2 linked regions of the Homo sapiens genome follow. The protein of the gene in region 2 interacts with the protein of the main gene of each other region in a biochemical or structural test. Each region holds a gene or a part of one and is shown on either strand. Other genes may lie near its edges.

Evidence for each region. Proteins that work in one complex are often made in the same cells at the same time.
Region 1: the proteins of CACNA1A (region 2) and SYT1 form a complex in vitro, tested with the Homo sapiens proteins (one study listed by BioGRID).

Annotation. Positions count from the first base shown.
Region 1 is NC_000012.12:78,867,302-78,875,231, reverse strand, and holds part of SYT1 (synaptotagmin-1), read right to left. Parts: intron 1-7,930. UniProt on the Homo sapiens protein: Calcium sensor that participates in triggering neurotransmitter release at the synapse. May have a regulatory role in the membrane interactions during trafficking of synaptic vesicles at the active zone of the synapse.
Region 2 is NC_000019.10:13,496,303-13,504,232, reverse strand, and holds part of CACNA1A (voltage-dependent P/Q-type calcium channel subunit alpha-1A), read left to right. Parts: intron 1-7,930.

The DNA of each region.
Region 1 (7,930 bases), on a different chromosome or scaffold from region 2:
CGAAGAAATATATTATTCCCAAATATTTCCTCTTCAATTCAGAGTACAACAAAGATAAAAATGTATAATATATTTGTACAAATTGATAACGTTTAATCTGTAGCATATGTAGGTTAAAACTTTATAAACTCCTTGAAATAACCCCTCCTTCCTTACAAAACTAATAAAAGTTTGAAATTCTCATTTACACGCAAGTGGCTCTGCAATTTGCTGTTCTTGGTTCTACTAAGCTTAATTTCTTCAAGTCTTGTAAAGGACTTTCTTCTTATCTTTGCAATGAGATGAATAAAGACTATCTACCCTTCTGCATTAAAAAGTGAGGAAGCCAAACAGAGTAAGGCAAGGACATAACTAGAATTAAATAACAATCAACTCAGCCAATATCCTCTTATAGGTAGACTTTTCACACTGGTATAATCATACCAGTCGTTAAATTATTGAGTACTAGTGGTACAGTGGTAGGAAGGAGAATAGGCTTGGTTCTGACCACATGGTGTGAGCTCCCATTTCCACCTATGACTGAAGCCAGAATATTCATGAACTTTATGGTCACATGAGCACCAAAATCCCTTTTCTTGCTTAAGCATTTTGAGTCAGGTGGCATTTTTACAAGTGAAAGAATTTCTGAAAATAAAAAAAGAGAAAGAGGAGCAAAGGTGGTCAAATCTACCATATAGTAACAGGGCACCAGACAATTTGCAAACATTATTGCATTTTCATTCCTGGGGAACTATCTTATTGAAGTTCACCATTCCAGAGTTGGCTATCTGAATCCAGCTCTCTAAGTTTCATACTTTTATCCTATTGCCATCATGCTCATATTGACCTAACCTATAAAGTGGATCAATTTGCCTATCACTATTTAATCTCTTTTGGGTACCTCTACCTCTTTGCCACCATCTATTCTCTTCTTCTGACATTTATGAGTTTATTGATTGTGTGACTACCTATGATTGAGTATTGGCTCTGTAAATAGGTAGCTTGGGTTTAATTCTACATCTTACTACATAATGTGACCCTGGGAAGTTGCTCAGTTATTCTTTTTCCACTACTTTCTCACTTAAAAATTATAAACAAATTAGCACAAATCCCAAGGAGTTATTGAGAATATTAAATGGGATGAAGCATGGAAAGTACATAGAAAAGTGCCTGACATATTGTAAGAAACAATATGAATACCTGTATTCATTCAAATATCTCCCTTAATACCTATCCTATGTTTCATATAATTTTGTATTCTTTCTATAGGCCCTTCCCAACTAAAATTCCTGTTTTCTTAAATCAGATTAGCTACAAACACACTTATATTATTCCACATTGCAATGGTATGGCTATTAGCTATTGCTCGCAAATGTGTTTCTTAACACAAAGAATTGCCAACTGATAGACTTCATATTTGAATTGAATAATAATTGTGGTTTGGATATGTTCACTTAGAGCAGAATGTTTAACCATTCTACCTTGGAATAGAAGATAAAAAGTATCAATAGATTCAACAACTTCCACTAATGTTATGTGAAGGAACAGCAAGAAGGTGTGTATGAATATCAATGAGGAGAATAATAAGAGATAAGTTTGGAGAGTTAGTGATAAAGCTACAACACTTATGATTACAATCACTTCTCATTGCACCCTACTTGGTGGCTTGGAACTATGGAGTTTACAAATAAGAAAACAAATAAGGTGACTTATCTAACATCACAGTGATATAGCAATGACTAAAGGCCAACTTAGCCTAGTGACTCAAGCTTAGTGACTTTTCTTGTAGATTACAAAAATGTCCCTTGAATAATTTTAAAACACAAACTCAATTTATTTTGCAATTAGAGTCACAGAAGAAATAATGGTATATCAAATCTTTCTTATTTTTTCAGTGGGATAAATAAAGACTATGTATCTTATACTCAATAATGATGTTAGATAAGCAAAAGCAAACTAGTTCTTACATAGTAAGAGAATTACAAAACATGCTTTTTCCTGCTTTATTAAGTGCTGAGGCAGTAAGTTCCAACAGACAAAAAATATAAGAGGCTTTCTAAATGTGTAATTGCAGGCAAGTAACAACACTTGAGTCTCCTTCATTGCATCTTTAAGAGAGAGAACCTCTTCATTATCAACATCAAACAAGGCAATAAAATAAATAAACAAATAAAAATACAGTGCTGCACGCCTGTCATGAACACAGTAACTTGTTACCATTGCAATGGCAAAATAGAAAATAAAGAAAAACATGCCAAATAGTACATGCCAGTTTTTTGGACTCTAAAACATTATTCTGTCTCTCTGCAAAAAGTTACGGTTTAAAAATTATCCGCAAGCCCTTTACATGCAAAATTTTAAAAACATTCATATGATGACACATTCCATTTAAGTGTGCCAATTACATAAACAAATTAAAAGGCTGCTCCTTTATTTATCTATACATATATTTTGTGAAGCTAACCTAAAATGTATACAAACTAAGAATTACATTTCTTAGTTGTTGACACAAATTAATTCAGCTGGTGAAGATTACTATGGGTCAAAAGTACTAAACCTTCATTTAGTGATTCTATAGGAAAATATTTAATTAAGATACAAAAAAAGAAAGGAAAGACAAAAGAATGAAGAAAAGAAGGAAGAAGGGCAGAGTAGGAAGAGAAGACATGAGAAAGGAATAAAATGTACAGAAAGGAAGAGAACACAAAGGAATTCCTATATCATTCTTATAACCAGAGAACTGAACAAATCTTTCCTATTCAGGCTGTGAGGTGTAATATGCTTCGATGCATACAGGTCTAAAAGTCCAGAAATCAAGAGAAATAAAACTGTTGCTATGTGTTCAATATATAAATGATGAAACAGATTCTCAAAGGCATAAAAGAACTTGTCTCATCCACTTTTGCCTGAAGGAGTCAGCTCTCTCCTGTCATTAATATTCATTCTGTGTTGTCTAAGAGTGGTTCAGAAAGTATCTAAGATTCTCCAGAAAAAAAACAAGTCGTTGGAAACTTGCATATCAAGTACTTTTTTACAAAACAATTTAAAAGCAGGGCAGTTTTGTCAATTTAAGGGTATGTTGGCTTTGTACTGAAATGTCACTTTTTGAATTATCAGGCTCAGATGTAGCTCAAGGTGAATGCTTGGCTTTTTAAATTTAACATTATAATTTAATAAAACCACTAAAAATAGGTACATTATTTGTAATGTCATATTGTTAACTAAGCTTTTAACAGAAGAATTTCCTGTACACAGACAGATAAAACCCTAGTACTTTCAGGCATAGAATGATCTGGTTTATACATATTTAAATATAAAAACTTGTGGCCTCGGATTCTGAACATTGGTTAAAATAGAAGAGTGATGTTATGCTATTTATAGAAGAGGTCTCGGTGCTCTAGAAATATGCTCTAATGCCCAATAGTTCACTTTATTCAGTCTTCAAATCTGATGAAAATGCTAGGGATTAGGCAGAAAGCCAGCCTTGTAAACTAGGATCTGGCAGACACTCCAAGTCAGAAACAGATTTCAATGCTTTGCTTCCTTGTCTTTTTCCTGAGAAACTGTGTCAACTTTTCTTCCTAATAATCTTGATAACTCAAAACCTGATTGCTAGAGCTCAACTGTCCCTTAATGAGTTGTTATAGCACTTGTCCTTGCTTCAAAGGCCAATAAATCATTTGTCTAAAAATCTTTCTAGAAAAGTTTTTTTTCCCTCAAAAATAAGCAGGTAGGCAGTTTCCGTATTTCATAGGAGCTAAGCAAGGACCATGTCCACTGTTTGTATGGCATAGGATATTGGAGACCAGTAAGTACATCATGAGGGAAAAAGATACTCAGTTAGCTCTTTCTCCTTCTCAAAGAGAGAGCAGACAATTCAAAATTGATATTTTAGTGAGTGTTGCCTGCTGCTGTAATGTTATCTTATTGTTTATACTTGCAGAAACTCTCACATACAATTGTGTCTGAAAAATACATTATTAATAATCTATCCTAAAAGCAAGCTCGTGTGTGATGTTTCATAATATCCAGAGATTTTGTAGAAAAACAAATTGTCAGTTATCTGGGATAATGACCATGAAGCATGTGCTTATTTAAGGGTCTCCAGACACAGATGGATTTTGAAAGTATGATTTGAAACACTTTTTAAACAATCCTTTCAGCTTTATTCTCAGGTGTTAAGTTAAAAAAATACTATACTGACTCATGGTTTAACAGCTTCATCTTTTGCTTGGATCACTTGTGAGTAAACAAAAGAAATTCCAAGAAAGAAAAGCTTTTTCATAAATTATCCTAAAATTATATAAGATTCAGTATCGCATTTTAAAAGTGTTCACGTAAGTACAGCTCTGCATGTTTTGACTGAGTATTCATGTCCTTTTGCCTTCATGTTGATGAAAAAATATGTCAAGGAATCTCAAAGCAGCAATCAGTCAATCCAAGTACCTGTTTCCTACCCACAGTAGGCATGGAGTGACATGCAAGGAGGATGGCCCAGCGGAAATGAGCCTCAAGTAAAACAAGAGGCTGTTCCCTGGAGGCCACATCATGAGAACTTTCACCAGAGTTTTCAGGTGGTTTGTCTGCTTTCCTTTCTATTCTCAAGGGACTGAAATGATGGCTGCTGTCAGGGAGCATGATGGAAGAGGACAGGAGACTATATACTTCTCATGTAAGCAATTGCAAAATAAGAATGTTTACATTTCAAACTCTTCAAATATGTTTGCATTTGAGTGCATATGTGCATTTTATCTTTGATTTCAAAAGAGAAAGAAAACATTTATCTATCACAGGAAATAAGACACAATTACTTTTACTTATATAATACCCTTTGATAAAAAAATATCGGAACTCTAAGCACTTTAAAATTATTAATAAAGCTATATTTCACAAGTACAGAAATAGGTTCTTTGAGGTAAGATATGACCAAGTTTCAGTACCATACCTGAATTTAATTAAGTGGATATTTCAATCAGAAATTAATTTCTAACTGAGGCACTTAGCTAAATGTCTTTTTAACAGTATTTATGATTGCCGTAGCATGGTTGCAAGCTAGTATCTGTGATGAAATGTTGTCCAACAGGGCTGTATGAACTCTTGGAAATAATATCTTAAATTATATCTTAACCAAGTAGTTTCACCGAATTCTTACACTAGTTTATAGGCCATTCCCGTTCTACATGGAAATTCCCCAGCTCTCATTTTGTACAAACAGCTAGAAATAGAAGGCGTGTTTTATATCTTCATCTGCTTTATGATTTTCTAGAGCTCCTCTTTAACAAAATGCCTTTTTATGTGCATAAGTAATAATGTTAAACATAAAACATACTATGTGTGAGACATTTATAGGAGTGACCAGTATGCTTTCTTTGTATTTCCGCAATAGCAGTAACCAAAAAAGATAAACTTTGACCTCTCATTTGCATTATTAGTAAAGTATGGAAATCAGCAATCAGAACTTAAGGCTTAAATAAATATAAAAATTAGAGCAATTACAGAAATAATTCTTTAAAATATTTGTTTTGCATGTGTCAAAGACATGCTAGAAAATTCATTTCTAACACTACCATAAAGGTGTTATTTTACTTTAATGTAGGTTTTAATTTCTTTTGAAACTCTCTTAAATATTGCTTTTTTAAAATAATGTAATGTAGATGCCATTTTAAAACTAGGATTCTTTGCAATAGAATCTCTAATATTATATTTTAAATTGCAGAAATAGCATCTCTAGTGTTTACCATTTCTACAACATAGCAATATATTTATTGTCCACTTTAAAGAAAAGTTTTCCTTTTTTAATAAAACAAAAGTTAATTTTATTGATGTAGACAGTAAATGATGGCATGCTCTCTTCTAATAGGTAGCATACATTTGCACTATAATTTTAAATAAGTTTATTTTGTATTGCTAGTACATATGAATGGAGTGATGTTCACATACCCGGCTACCACAGTTTATCTTACAGTCCATATAAAACTAGCTCCTCAAGAACACTCTTAAAATGACCAGCTGAAAGAAAAATGCTGGTTATCTTTTTTTTTGGAAATGTTAAATTTCTCCTTAAGGAAATGGAAACACTTAGTGGAGAAGTTTAAGTCAAGTTTGCAAAAAGACTGAAAAAATGTTGATCATTTCTTGAGGAATTTAATGAAAACATATCAACCCACATTCTCCCACCCAATGCAATGATAATCATGCCATTCAATTACATAAAAAATTAAGAATGTTTACCTTAATGCAAATATTGAAAGAAACATCTGCCAAAAGCCTTAGAAAGACAGAAGTTTTATCAGCCATCATATCTAAATCATGTAAAAATATGATTTCAACTTATTTGTTACCTGTATAAAGAAGTGCATCATCTTGTACTGAGAGTTTTTTCAATCATGATACATATAAAAATCATTTCTGCCCAAAGCCATGGAACCCCATTTTAAAAGAAAAAAACTCTAGGCTCTCATTAATATTATCTCTGAGTATTCCCAGACTTTCAACCAAAGAACCCTTAAAAGCATTCCTAAGACACCGTCATCTTTCTTTAAATGGTACTTTGTACATGAATAGCCCCTAGTTTCAGCAAATTATAGTCTACTGTCCATGAGTTTCTAAACCTTTTTGAAAAATTTAGATAATTTCGGAATATATATACACACAAATATATGCATATGTATATACACACACATATCCTTAAATTCTAGCTGAAATTATTATGTATATTGCCATATACTTTGTCTCTTTTTAAATGGCTTTGGTCAATTTCAGTGAAAAAATTTCAGCTAAAATCAGCCACGTCATGTATTGAACTTTTGGTACAGATATATTTATGATAAATAAATTATTTAAGAATTTTAAAATATCACAACTACATCAGATATTTACTTTTTAAAAATATTATATTTTCTGCAGAATGCATGCAAGACGCATACCTACATTACACAATGGCAGAAAGTCTAACTTTGGTATGGGTTTTTGGTAATATTAGACAAAGATTTGTTCCATTATATAATCAAACTGTTTTTATTTCTTGTTCCCCCCAAATTACTTAATTATTACCATTAGGAAAATAAATATTATGTTTCAATTTGGAATTAGTGATAGCTCTTCTTGGTTGTTGCACAAACTGGAAATCATAAGAACTATATTTCAGGCTCGTATAATTGTCTGCATTAAGTGTGTGTTCTTTAAGATTAGATGGCTCTAACTGTTTTGGGAATTTTCTCAAAATCAACTTAATATACTGACATCAAAAGTGATGAACTGATATTATGTTAATGGTGTTATTAGGCTAACAGGAAGTTCAAATTAACTTTCAGATTTCTAACATATTCTACATTTTATTTTATTAATCTTCCAGCTCATCTTGCATATAATTAATACAAGCATATAATTAATACTATTTTTTAGTTTCAATTTCAGTCTAATATGCAAATCGTATAAATACAATGTTATTCATTTTCATATTTGTTGATTAGAACTATCTGATAATTTGACCAGATGAAATAACTAATATTCTCCATTATGAAATGAAGTTCAAAACTACTCAGCAACAACTCTCAATCATGTGGTATTTTTGTGAAATTAGTATTTTAGGATTTTCCCTATATATTAGCAGTCTTCAATTCTGACAAAAATACCTCGAGGCATAATTATCATATTTACTCTGAAACATTAATGAGATTTACTAAAATATCCTGTCAAAGGGAGAAAAAACAAAGATTGTATGAAATTGTGACATTAGACTATTTTGTGGGATAACAAAGTAAGAATTTCCTATAATATATCATGTAAGGTCTCTCCCCAATCCACTCACTATATATTGGAATTAGTTCTGATTTCCAATACACAGATATTGAATTTTTTAGAAGTATTTGAAAAACTACTCATATCCATATTTTTAGATGTTATTTCTATAATTAACATTTGTAAAGAGTCATGAAAATAAATGTCACAA
Region 2 (7,930 bases):
TGAAGTGCTCAGGGGTGGCTTGATTACTCTGCCTATCAACAGAGTGAGGAGTGGGAGTGCCTTGCAGGAGGACAGGGTATTCATGGGTGCACACCCAGTTAGCTCCAGGAGTGAGAGGGCTTTGCTCGGCTGACAGGTTTCCTCATTGAAAATGGCTTTAGATCGCCTTCTGGAGCCTGGATTTGGAGACTTCTAAGAGGAAAGGAAGGAGGTGGGGAGCCCTTCTGCTGTGTCCTTAGCTTACCTCTGTCCAGCCTGAATCCTGCAGATTGGAGGGCTGTTGGGGGAGAGGGGGATTGCAGTGGCCCCTCGGAAGGGGGAATCGTGGGAGAGGGAGGCAGGTGAATTGCGAGTGTTGCTTGCCACTTCATCTATTCTCTGGCCAGCTCGCCCGGGGCTTTCTTGCTCTTATGATGAGTTTGTGCATTATGCTCTCTGCAGACTGTTTTTGTTCTCTTTGACCCGAGGTAACAAACACATTATACAGCCCTACTCTGGAAGGGAAAACTCCCCACCTCACAATCTGTCATCGAGCTGGGTCATCCAGGACTGAGCTTTCTCTGTCCTGGATGGAGCGGAGGGCGGTGGCGGGGTGGGTGGGAGGGTTGGAGATGAGAGGGGATGGACAGAGACCTGGGGAGGGAGGTAGTGAATAAAAGAATTCAGGCCAGTGTAAAGAGAAAGACACGTGGAATGTCAGAGTCACGATACCAGGGCAGAACATTCTACTTTTTAATCTAAATATTTCTGCCATTAAAAAAAAATGTTTCAGCATATCCTGAGAGTGAAAAAAAAAGTGTGTAGGTACTTAAATAAAGTCTAATATATGTACAGGCAAGTACATATATTCAGATGCATAGATTTTTACAAAATGAACACACCCACGTATCCAGCACCCAGGTCCCGATCAGTGCCCTGGAAGTCCCCCTCCCCATACCGCCTCCTAGTTGCTCCCCCAACAAGGGTACCGCTCACCTGACTTCTAAGGTTCATTTTGCCTCTTTTAAACATGTAAATGGAGTCACACAGTACGTTCTTTTGCCACTGGCTTCTTTTGCTCACATCTGTGTATGTGACTCTACTACAATCTATCCATTCTACTGTTGATGGGCATTTGTGTCATTTCTGTTTGTGCCACTGGGAACATTCTTGTGTCTTCTATTATTTTTTTCCCACAGTTCTCTTAGATAGGAGTGGAATCGCCCCTGCTACTTTTTGATGCATGTGTTGTGGGATGTGTATTTGGAAATGGTGTTGACTAAGGGTTGCAGGTCGATATGGAAAGCAGGTTCCTCCCTGTCTTGTTTAAGAGAAGTGAGTGAATGATCCATGAACTTGTCGGTATGCTCACAGGGCCTAAGAGTGCTACTTCCAAATGTAAATTCTGGCATGGTACACTGGTGAAGGATGCAGTCTTGCTTTCTCCACACTCGGGGCAATTTGTCACTATGATTTCTTCCTCTTTCATCCCTCAGTGGGTCAAACTTGAAGCCATCAATGACAATTAAGAATCCTCATTTATTTCATTTTTTCCCCTCTTCCTAAGTGAGGAAACCCAAATGGAAGTCTTTGATGTTCAAATTTACATTGCCGTGTTTTTCTCATGCCAGGCAGCAAGCCGTCTTGACCACACACCTTGGTTTCATGTTTTCATTGACTGGAATTGTGATTCAAATAGGGCCATGAGGGTCTCTGATGATTGCCGAAGAGCTCAGATCTGTCAGCTCAAAAAGGAGCATCTGTCAGCCTTCCTAGAGTTCCCTCCCCACTTAATGCCACTCACTCCTTCTACCAAGTGCCAAGGTGAATGTCATCTTTCCAGCCCTCCCTGTGCCACCAGGTCTCCCACTGAACATGATGTAGAAACTCAGGCCATCGGAGGAACACTGGAAGCAGGTCAGTGTATTATCACGCACAGTTGCCTGAATTACACGTAGAATTCCAGCTTTTCATCCGGTTTGCAGAAATCTTAACAAGACACCTAAAGTCACATTGACATCAGGTGACATCACTTTGACATCTGTGGACATTGGCTGATTGGCACTCCTCTCATTTTTTTTTTTTTTTTTTTTTTTAAGAAAAGCTCTCTAAAGAGAAACTTTCTGCATGAGAAGCGCTGGGAGACATGGGAGCAGGTTATCAGACTCTTGGCCTGTCCTGAGAGATAGAATGTTCTAGAAGGTACTGCCGTAGAGGGCAGGATGGTGTCACTTACGTGATCCTTGTACTAGACCGGCTTGGCTGGTATTTCCAGAGGAGCAAAATTCTGCGAAGTAAAATTTAGCACGGCTTTTCCAATGGGAGTATTTTCAAAAAGGGTGCAATTTCTTATCCACAATTCCCCAATCCAAAAAGCTCCAAAAACCAAAAGACGAGCTCATATAGAGGTAAAACCTAACCTGAACTGACTTCAGTTTGAAGTCTTAATTTACAGTTTTCATTCATTCTACTTGGTGTGCATTTGAGTATGTTTTGCAGCAGAAATGTTAGATGTGCTTGATGATGAGGTGCTGCTTCAGCTCCTGACTGTTAGGTCTGCATTGTAGTCCTGTCAAACTTTCAGGTGTATGGAAGTTGTCTTGTTAACAGGATGGTTCTGGTCCAGCAGGATTTGGGTGGGGTCTGGGATTCTGCTTTTCTAGCTAGCTTCTAGGGATTCCCCATGTGGTAAGTTCATGGGCTAGGGTTGGAGTATCCAGGTTAGATCATAGAGACATCTTGTTATCATTTTTCTTTTCCTTAAAAATCAGGTTTATAGGGGCCGGGTCTGGTGGTTCACGCCTATAATCCCAGCACTTTGGGAGGCTGAGGCCGGTGGATCATGAGGTCAGGAGTTCGAGACCAGCCTGGCCAACATGGTGAAACCCCGTCTCTACTAAAAATACAAAAATTAGCCAGGCGTGGTATTGTGCGTCTATAATCCCAGCTACTCGGGAGGCTGGCAGGAGAATCATTTGAACCTGGGAGGCAGAGGTTGCAGTGAGCCGAGATTGCACCACTGTACTTTTTTTTGAGACTCTGTCTCAAAAAAAAAATAGATTTATTGATGTATAATTTATTTGTAGCAAAATTCACCCTTTTGACATACTGGTCTGCAAGCTTTGACAAATGGATGTAGTTGTGGCCACCACCCAAATCAAGATATGGGACAGTTTCATCAACCCTAAAATACCCCCACAGTGCCCCTCTTGAGTCAGCACCCCACTTCTCCAGCCCCTTCAACCACTGATCTGTTCTCCATCCCTACAGCTTTGCCTTTTGCCGAAGGTCATATAAATGTAATTTCACAGTATATAGCCTTTTGAATGTGGATTCTTTTACTCAGACTTTGAGATTCATTCATGCTGTTGCCTGTGACAGTAGCGCCTTCCTTTTTGGTGTTGAGCAGGATTCCATGATATGGATGGACCAGAGTTTGCTTCCCAGCCGAAGGACATTGGGATGCTTCCAGTTTCAATGATTATGAATAGAGCTGCTATAAACATTGGCTTATGGGTTTTAGTGGGAACATTTCATTTCATACATTTCATTTCTCTTGGGTAAATTAACCCAGGAGTGAGATTGCTGAGTTGTGTGGTAGGTGTATGTTTAATTTTATAAGAGGCTCTCAAACTGTTTTCCTAAGTGGTTGTACCATTTTACATTCCCATCTTTGCAATGCGTCTAAAAGCCCTGAGTTCTGAATTCCAAAGCACGTCTGGCCTCGATGGCTTAGGATTAAGGATGTGGATCTATGGAAAGGAGTGGAAGTAATAGTGTTAAATCCCGGTCAGAGAAATAAGAAAGATTAAGGATGTCATTCAAAGCTATGTGCCTGCACTAGAGAGAGAGAAAGAAGGGGTTCTCTTGGGTGGGGTTCCACCCCTCCCTGGTAGTTCTACCATTCCCCAGGAAAAAGTCAAGCTCTGAGGCTGTGAGACCCATGATCTTTACCCTGTTCTTCACCACTGCAACCCCAGTGTGTGGGACAAAGCAGGCGTCCTATAAACGTTTGCTGAGCAAATGAGAAAAGGTACCTGTCTTCACCCATTAACTAAATTGTATAACATCTATCTGATCTACCCTTGTGCCAACGTTTTAGGATTTTGATGGGTTTTAGTTGCAGGGGGTTGAGAGACTGTCCATGAGATTATCAGACCAATGAAAGTTTCTGAAATGTTAGTGCTTGAGTAGATTGGATGCAGCGGCCCCTTGAGAATGAAGTCTTTCTTCAGGGACTTGGAGTGGGAGGCATCTGTTGGGTGCGTAGGGCTTATGCTTCCCCCTCCCTGTTTCCCCCCCAGTAGCAAGCACACATATACACTTTCTCAGCAATAAAAAGCACCGCCGGGAAGGTGGACTCCATCCAGAAATGATCAGAGCCTAAGAGCCGTGCAGTAACGCATTTCCGAGAATGCCAGCTCAGCTCCTGAGAAAAGGGCCGGATGGGATGGTGCCTGCTCTGAAAGAGGGCAGAGAGGAGAGGGAAAACACTCCGGACTCTGGGTCAGACTGGCCCAGGTTCACATTATTCACCAGCCATGTTATCTTGGGCACCAGAGCCTATTTCTTGACATGCATGATGAGGATATTCCTTCTAGTAGCATCTCCCTTGGAGGGCTCTCAGGAGATTAAATGGGGTCGTGCGTGAAAAATGGCCAGCACAGTCTCCAGCACAGAGAAAAACCCCAAAACGCCAGAGCCGTAATACTATGGAGTCATTTAGGTTCCAGTGTTCTTTTTTTGGAAACCGGCCAGAAAAGAGGCTTTCTGGGTGGGAATGGGAGCGAAGTGCCCCCCCCCACCACCCCCTGCGACTGGTCAGTGTGGATTGATTAACCTGATCGTGGCGCTCTTTAAAGCCACCTTTGGACATTTTGCATTCTCCGTTCTCTCTGGAAGCTTTCAGGGGAAAAAAAATTCGTGGCCACTTGACCCATTTTTCTATTCCCTTGAGTCTAAGGTAAAAATTAATTCTCTTTCCTCCTTTGGTCCCTCCCTCTCTCTGTGGGTGACAAGGTGAGGGAGTTTTAAAGTATATAATTAGCTTCCCTCTTCCCCTTTTGCACTCCCTGTCTCTTCCTTTGGGGCCGGTCGAGAGTGCAGCCCAGGATGGCCACCCCAGGTGTCCACTGCAAACTCCACAGAAAAACTTTGCTCAACTTTTGGTTTAGAATTTAGGTACCCCCCTCCCCTTCCAAACTTTGGTCTTCTTTCTCCTCACTCCCTAAAAAAATAGGAAAAACAAGGAACATTCCTGGCGAGGGAACCATGAGTGGGCACAGCAACTTAGGTTTCAAAAACCACTGGGCCTCAGTTCTTATCTGAGTAGGGTGACCCTTCAGCCAGGGTTGCCTGGGACTATCCTGGGTTTAGCATCTCTGGAAACTCACAGTCCTGGGCAAACTGGGACGCTGGTCACCCTAATGGTGAGTTCTTAACACCTGAGAGAGAAGAATGGTGCAAGAGATGGTGCCGTTGACCAAGAAAGGGGGAGAGTCAGTTACTTATTCCCTCTGAAAAGCCAAGACTTTTTATTGGAATGAATGCAGCTTTTAGAAGCCGTCTTTAAGGCAGCTAATACAAGAGAGATTCCAGCTATGAAGGGAAATGCCTGAGTTAAGTCCGGATCAAGTTTTGACATCTCGCTTCGGTCAGACACGGCTTTATCTGCCGTTCAGACTGGGAGCAGCCGTGAGTCTTCCTTAAAGGTGCCTGTTGCTCAGGCGGCACCTGCAGTTAGAAATTAGCAGCCTCCCACCCCCAGCCCCCAAATAACAGGATTCAAGAGTCCCCTCTCTGAAGCCATGAGGGAAACCCAACTTAGTCACCCACTTGCCAGTAAATAATATTCATGCTGTTAAGTTCTGTTCTCATTTTAGGCCTATGTGTAAAAAATATATGTAATTTTAAACTGATTTTTAAAGTATTTTCATACGAACAGCATTTGCAGGAGGGCGAAGTCTGGATGTTACCTTTTTGTAAAAGTGGATGGATTTGTCTTCAATGAGACTCTGGGGCAGACTTAAAACTTGGCCCGCAGTGGTGTTACATGGATTCTGATCTTCCAGAGTCTGTCACGTTCTTTTATCTCCATGATCTTTATTATCTTCTTTATTGAGAATGATGGGCATGGTGTGTGTGGGTGGGAGGGCTATGCTGACCATCACTGCAGTGAAATGTGTTCGTGGCATGTTGTGGCGTCTGCATAGGAATGTGTCTGTTTGATTAACAGCACAAGCAGTGGAGGCTGTAAGGAGGAAAAGAGGAGGGAAGGTGATATTGGATGGAGGGGAGACATATAGAGCTTGGGAACAGTCCACCCTGGCTGCAAATCTCAGCTCCAGCTCACAGTTGTGGAGCCTCAGTCTTCTCCTCTGTAAAACGGGGACAGTAGTCCTATGTCCGAGGAATTGTAAGAAGGTTAAAAGATACTGTACCCAGAAAGCACATGGCATATATAATCATCCTGTGAAGTAGCCAACTCAATGAATTTTATTTTATTTATTTTGAGTCAGAGTCTCACTCTGTCACCCAGGCTGGAGTGCAGTGGCATGATCATGGCTCACTATAGCCTCGACCTCCTAGGCTCAAGCGATCCTCCTGCCTTAGCCTCCCGAGAAGCTGGGACTATAGGCATGCACCACCGTACCCAGCTTTAACAACATAAATTTATATATATATATATATATATATATATATATATATATATATATATATATATATATATATTTTTTTTTTTTTTTTTTTTTTTTTTTTTTTTTTGAGATGGAGTTTCATTCTTGTTGCCCAGGCTGGAGTGCAATGGCGCGATCTCGGCTCACTGCAACCTCCGCCTCCCGGGTTCAAGCAGGACGATGGGCATTTGGGATGTTTCTAGTTTGGGGTGGGGGATTGTTTGTTTGTTTGCTGTTATGAACAATGCTGCTGTAAGGAATCAATAATTTTGAATGAATGAATTCGAGGTGTTAATTTTAGTCTGTGTACTTGGAAATCTAGCTTCACCTAGAATCAGCTGAGATTCATCAGCATTTATGGCAGGAGCTAAGACATTTCACAGCTTACTCATCATTTTCTCTAAGAGGCTGGGTCAACCGGTTAGCTCTTGGTCCTGCTTGTATTCTGAGAGTCAGAACCTGTGGTTTAGACACTGGCAATTGATATGGTTGTAGAGAAGCAGCATGGTTGAGTTGAGAGCATGGATTCTGGAGCTAGGTGGCTGGGGTTCAAATCCCAGCTCTACTAGTCACTGGCTGCGTGATCTTGGGCAAGTCACTTAAGTGTTCTGTGCTTCAGTTTCCCAGTCTGTCCCAGTGGTGATTCTAATAGCTCCATGGGGATCCTAATAGCTCCTATCTGGGAGGATTAAATGAGTTAATACATCTGATGTTTAGAGTGGTGCCTGACACTTAGGAAGCACTATATGTGTTTATACATGGAAGAGTGGATAGATGGATGGACTTATGTGGGTGGCCATATTTGGGCTTCTCTGATCCACTGCTGAGAATAGTGTGTGGCACACAGTAGGTGCTGCATAAGTGTTAATATTCTGCTCTTTCTTGCCAAGTCTCTCAACTCCCTTGATCTCTGTTATTTTTGGCGTCTGTGTTGTTAACCCATTCTTCTGAATGATCAGCTGAATCACTGTTGCTCCAATATATAAGCCAAGGAGAACACAATCACAAGGTCTCATTGATTGTCCATACTAGAATTCCATGATTCCTAGGCCCAAGTAGGATTTTCCCCACGTCTCAGCAATCCTTCTTCCATGTTTCTAATCTTTTTCTCTCATTTGTTATGCCCCATTGCCAGACTCTCCAATCTCCCCACAGCTTCCCCTTCCTCTAACTATACTGTCTCTAGTCTTACCTTCTCCCTAAGGGCACCGTCTTTGAAGACATCAAATACTTCAGAGCACCAAATATAGGTTAGCTTCTCTGAGGGCCTTACA